2 separate regions of the Homo sapiens genome follow, and region 1 is linked to region 2. Evidence: fine-mapped expression QTL. A gene starts in region 2. The other region holds a variant in brackets. All regions are shown on one strand. Distances are between the middles of the regions.

Region 1 (2,905 bases), 29 kb after region 2:
GACAGCCCATTTGCAGAATGAGAAGTTTGACACACGTGAAAACCAGTGAGCAATCTAGTTAATAGCTCTGCCAGCTTCCTGGTGTTCAGAAAGATCACTCACTTGGATTCGTTCCCCAGTTAAGTGTCCTTTGCACCATGGCAGCTTTCAACATTTGAGCAAAGCTTTATCAGACAGGATTGCCATCCAGGAGAGCAGGGCATGGTTTTGTCATCAAGGTAGATACCGGGCTCTGCCATTTCCACCTCAAGGACATCCTTCCAGGTCCTCACCACGAGCTTTGGGCTCTCATTCTTCCTTCCTCACCTGGGCCCTTCACAGAACTTTCTCCGTGGGGGACGACAGCCAATATGTCTGGTGTAGCTCAAACTTCAAGTTTTGTTTTTTGAAATGTGTATGTTTTCATATGGTTAGAAATTTTTAAAAATGTAAAAAGGTATAAAGTGAAAATCTTCACTTCTCTTCCTGTATTCATCCACCCAATTTGTGCTCCTCCCCATGTACCCAAAGGTAACCGCTTGTATTAGTTTCCAGCTCAAACATTGTGCTCTCCATAGACCAGTGTCTAATCCTCCCACTGGGTCCCATTGCTCCTTTCTCTGACTTCCTAAGTTTGCTGGCACCTGTGTGAGAGAGTACCCCATGTTATAATGAGCTGTTTGCCTGTATGTTAGGGGTCAGCAAACTTTTCCTGTAAAGGGTCAGATAGTAAATATTTAGGCTTAGGGGAAAAGAGGCAAAATTGAGGCAATTATATATGTCTTTAGGACAAAAGAGAATAGATTTCCACAACATTGTTACTGATGAAATTCAAAATACAAGAATAACTGAGTATAATGTTTCAGGTCTACTAATGAAAAGAATGTTATTAGTTTATGGACATTGTATCTGGGCATGGTGGCTCATATCTGTAATCCTAGCACTTTGGGAGACCAAGGCGGGAGGATTGCTTGAGACCAGGAGTTTGAGACCAGCCTGAACAATAAAGCAAGACCCCATTTCTACAAAATAAATGAACAAATAAGTAAACAAAATTAAAAAAAAAATTAGCTGGGCATGATGGCATGTGCCTGTGGTCCCAGCTACTTGGGAGGCTGAGGCAGGAGGATCCCTT[A/G]AACCCAGGAGTCTGAGGCTATAGTGAGCTATAATGGCTCCACTGTACTGCAGCCTGGGTGACAGAGCATGACCTTGTTTCCAAAAAACAAATAAAAATAAATAAAATTTATGGACATTGAAATTAGAATTCCATATAATTTTACATTACAAAAATATTCTTCTTTTGATCTTTAAAAAAATATATTTTAAAATGTAAAAATCTTTCTCAGCTTGTGGTCTATACAAAAACAAGGAGCAGCCAGATTTGGCCTGCAAACCGTACTGACTCCTGCCCTCTAGGATGTTATCATCTTCTTGAAAGCAAGGCCTCTGGCTTATCTTAGTGTTCCCTGTGACACCTTGCAAAATCTCAATACATATTCATTCACCACAAGGGTCTTGTCCAGCAAGTAATGACAGCTTTCCCGCAGATATTAAACTGAGAACTCCACATTTGCTATCTTAAGGTTCACAGCAGCCTGACGAGGCACTATCATTATCCTCTATTACTGATGAAGCAATGCAGGATTAAGGAGCGAGTTTGTCCTCCTCTGCCATGAAGCTATTATGCAGTAGAGTTATGAAGCTGTTTAGTTTGCCAGCCCAGCCACACGCAGTGGCTCACGCCTGTAATCCCAGTACTTTGGGAGGCTGAGGCGGGCGGATCACTTGAGGTCAGGAGTTGGAGACCAGCCTGGCCAACATGCTGAAACCCCCATCTCTACTAAAAATACTAAAATTAGCTGGGCATGGTGGCATGTGCCTGTAATCCCAGTTACACGGGACGCTGAGGCAGGAGAATCACTTGAACCCAGGAGGCAGAGGTTGCATTGAGCAGAAATCGCACCACTACACTCCAGCCTGGGTGATAGAGCGAGACTCCATCTCAAACAAACAAACAAACAAACAAACAAGAACAAAAAAAGTCTGCTGGCCCCTACAACCCGCAGACCAAATAGCACCCAGACCTCTTTCAGTGGGAGCAAGAGCAGAGACCCAGACTTGAGAGCACTTTCTCAGCGCTCCAGACTCACGGCCTGGAGACAGCTGGTCTCTAGAAAGAAGGAGTTGTCTGAGTACAAGCAGAAAAGGCAAGCCTCAACAGTCACCAGCAGCTTCTGGAAGCTCAGGACTAGGCATTGATCCTAGAACCAGTTTCTTACACCCCACATTTCAACAGGGGCAAGAGGAACCCAATAGCTTTATTTTAATTAAAAACATTGTTTTTTTTAAGAGACAGGGTTTCACTCTGTCACCTAGGCTGGAGTGTACTGGCAAGATCACAGCTCACTGTAACCTGGAACTTCTGGGCTCAAGTAATCCTCTTGCCTCAGCCTCCTAAGTAGCTGGGACTACAGACATGAGTCATGGCACCTAGCTAATAAAAAAAATTTTTTTTTGTAGACGGCCGGGTGCAGTGGCTCACTCCTGTAATCCCAACACTTTGGGAGGCTGAGGTGGGTGGATCACCTGAGGCTAGGAGTTCGAGACCAGCCTGGCCAACATGGCAAAACCTTGTTTCTACTAAAAATATAAAAATTAGCTGGGTGTGGTGGCACTCACCTGTAATCCCAGCTACTCGGGAGGCTGAGGCAGGAGAACTGCTTGAACCCAGGAGGCAGAGGTTGCAGTGAGCCAAGATCGCGCCACTGCATTCCAGCCTGGGTGACAGAGTGAGACTCTGTCTCAAAAAAAAAAATTTTTTTTTTTTAGAGATGGGATCTCACTATGTTGCCCAGGTTGGTCTCAAACATCTGGCCTCAAGCGGTCCTCCCACTTCCACCTCCCAAAATGCTGGGATTACAAGCAT
Region 2 (2,905 bases):
AAGAACCAGTCTATAGCTCTGTGTCCTGTTCCTCACACTGCCCCCCACCCCACCCTAGACCCCACCATGCACCTAGAAGTAAATATTTGGATACTGAAGCAAATGCATGACTCAAGCACATAGGATAGTATTAATGATGGACACTTAGTGCAGGGCCAGGGCCCCCAGCCAGTGGAGTGCTCATGAGTGTTCAGGAATGAGCCAGTGCAACCCCTGCCTGCAGAGGAGGGGCTGGGCATGGATACTGAGATGCTAACCATCACTGCCCCTAAGGGGACTTCATCTATCCCTAGCAAGGTCACAGTGACTGCAGTTGCCTCCACTGATACTAATTCAGAGCTCTTGCCCCCCGCCCCCCGCCCTTTTCCCATATTAATGTTACCCCTTAGCATCTTTTCTTTTCTTTCTTTTTTTTTTTTTTTTGAGACGGAGTTTCGCTCTTGTGGTCCAGGCTGGAGTGCAGTGGTGCCATCTCGGCTCACTGCAACCTCCGCCTCCCTAGTTCAAGCGATTCTGCTGCCTCAGCCTCCCGAGTAGTTGGGATTACAGGCGCCCACCACCACGCCCCGCTAATTTTTGTATTTTTAGTAGAGACAGCGTTTCGCCATGTTGGCCAGGCTGGTCTTGAACTCCTGACCGCAGATGATCTTGCCCACCTGGGCCTCCCAAAGTGCTGGGATTACAGGCGTAAGCCACCGCGCCCAGCCCCTTAGCACCTTTTAAAAATAAAAAGGGCAGCGTTTTACAGCAATCTGTCCCATTGTTGCAGAAACATCCAACTGATTGCACTTTTTCTTCTTCTCTCGTCAACTCGTAACTCCTATCTCAAGTTCACCCACAGGTCTAGTGACTCCGGCTGGCTGCTGCGGGGCGAGGAGACTCGCAGAATGCCTGACTAGAGGCCACTCGCGCGCTCTGGACGGTGGCCGTATCTCCAGGGTCTGAGCCCCGGAGCCGCAGTCCTGCCGCAGAGCGCCTGGAGCCGCGAGCAGCTAGCAGCCCGGCGAAGCGCACAGCCTCGGCGATAGTCAGCTCCGCGGCCTCTGCTCCCGCCCCTCCCGGCCGCTCCGGGAAGGGGCGGAGACGAGGAGGAGCTGGGACGGCCGCCGCGCTCCCGGGCGCACCAAGCCCTTTAAAAGCCGCGGGCCTTGACAGTTCTGCAGGCAGCCGCCGCGGTCCCGGACCTCTAGTCCCGCACTCCCAGCTGGCGAGCCGGCTCCGGGTGCGGCGAGGCCCAGCCCTCTCGGATTGCGCGCCGGACCCCGGGACGCGCTCCATGCGGCCGCTCAGCATGTCCGGGCACTTTCTGCTCGCACCCATCCCCGAGTCCTCCTCGGACTACCTACTGCCCAAGGACATCAAACTGGCGGTGCTGGGCGCCGGCCGCGTGGGCAAGAGCGGTGAGTGCGGCGGGGACCCCCGGGCGGCTTCGCTCCCCGGCTCCGGCCGCGACCACTGGGGGCGCTGCGGAGAGAGGGCGCCTCGGCCGAAGCAGAGGGCGCGGGTGCAGGTAGAATCGGGCTGCTTTCGCGCTGGGTGGGTCCCGGTCCGTCCCGGCCTGCTTCCCTGGCGTTTCCTGGTGCATCTACTCCTGGGATCTCGGCGGGATTGGCGCCTGTTCGGGGATGGGGTGCGGGAGAGGTGTCCCGCCAGTCGTACTCGCGGCCAAGCCCGCGGCACCACGGCTTTGCGGAGCCTCTGGAAGCGAGCAGTGCCCACGGTTCTGCACCCTTCACTCCCCCCAGTTTGTCCGAGGTGCCTGGGTTTGACAGGCTTGTTCTACTCCTTCGGTTGATTTTCCTATTTCCTTTTCAGCAATGATCGTGCGCTTCCTGACCAAGAGATTCATTGGAGACTATGAACCGAATACAGGTGAGAATACTTTCACGCTCCCTGCTTTTATGCTTGCGTGTTTCTTTTTACGGATGGGAGTTTGAGAATTAAAAAGCAAACTCTACTTCATTCTCCAGGCAAGCTGTATTCACGGCTGGTCTATGTCGAGGGGGACCAGCTCTCCCTGCAGATCCAGGATACTCCCGGGGGCGTCCAGGTAAGAACCGCCAGGGGCAAACAGCTCACCCCCACCCGTGAGACCACCCCAGTGGGCACAGCACGTAGGGCGCCCATGCTGGGCGCAGGGGTCTGAGCAAGGCATCTAAACCGACCTGTGCGTTTAGAGGGAGGAATGGGCTGTCCACAGGTGGGGCCAGTGGTTGGGGTGTTAGAAACTCTCTAAGGGGGAGGCATGGTTAGAAGCAGCCTCCTCTTGTTAAGCACCTGACTTAACTTCACTTTGCAACCCTGGTGGGCCATCACTACTTAAGCAGGTCTCACCATTTCTTCCGGAGGTAGCCATGGAACCATTAACAAAGAAAAAAACGTTTAAAACAAAACAAAACAAAACAAAAAAAGAGGTAGGATTCTGATGGGAGAGACTCTTCTCCCCTGGCAAGCTCTGCTTTTTTTGAGACGGAGTTTCACTCTTGCCCAGGCTGGAGTGCAGTGGCTGGATCTCAGCTCACTGCAACTTCCGCCTCCTAGGTTCCAGCGATTCTCCTCGATTCTCCTGCTTCAGTCTCCCGAGTAGCTGGGACTACAGGCACCCGCCGGAACTCCCAGCTATTTATCTATTTATTTATTTATTAGTAGAGATGGGGTTTCACTATGTTGGCCAGGCTGGTCTCGAACTCCTGACCTCAAGTGATCCGCCCACCTCGGCCTCCCAAAGTGGTGGGATTATAGGCATGAGCCACAGCGCCCGGCCCAAGCACTGCTGAACTGCTGCTGTTAATGGCTGTTCCCTCAAGTCAGTAATTGCAATCAGATAACCCCTTGGCAGAGGGTCTAGAATGTAACTTGTTTATTAACCAGTTACTAATTGCTACTCCGTTCTCCAGAGGAAAGG

Alleles and levels. Alleles are on the strand shown, and positions count from the first base shown. SD is a standard deviation of normalised expression in the study named.
As copies of G replace A in region 1, the expression in aorta of the gene that starts at base 1,162 in region 2 goes up (small effect, 0.30 SD a copy in GTEx).

What was found. PIP is the estimated chance that this variant, and not a neighbour inherited with it, causes the effect.
Region 1: its variant is the best candidate, but not a certain one, in a credible set for the expression of RASL11A in aorta (GTEx, PIP 0.88).

The regions. Positions count from the first base shown.
Region 1 is chr13:27,298,950-27,301,854 of GRCh38, forward strand. No RefSeq gene overlaps it. Among named protein-coding and RNA genes, the nearest start is that of RASL11A, 30 kb to the left of the region's middle. The variant A/G (reference allele first, on the strand shown) is at 1,115.
Region 2 is chr13:27,269,669-27,272,573 of GRCh38, forward strand. RASL11A (RAS like family 11 member A) reads left to right here and starts at 1,162. Exons shown (of 4, transcript NM_206827.2): 1 at 1,162-1,400; 2 at 1,816-1,872; 3 at 1,971-2,050. The coding sequence starts at 1,277. RefSeq lists an enhancer at 624-1,124 and silencers at 1,073-1,292, 1,333-1,562.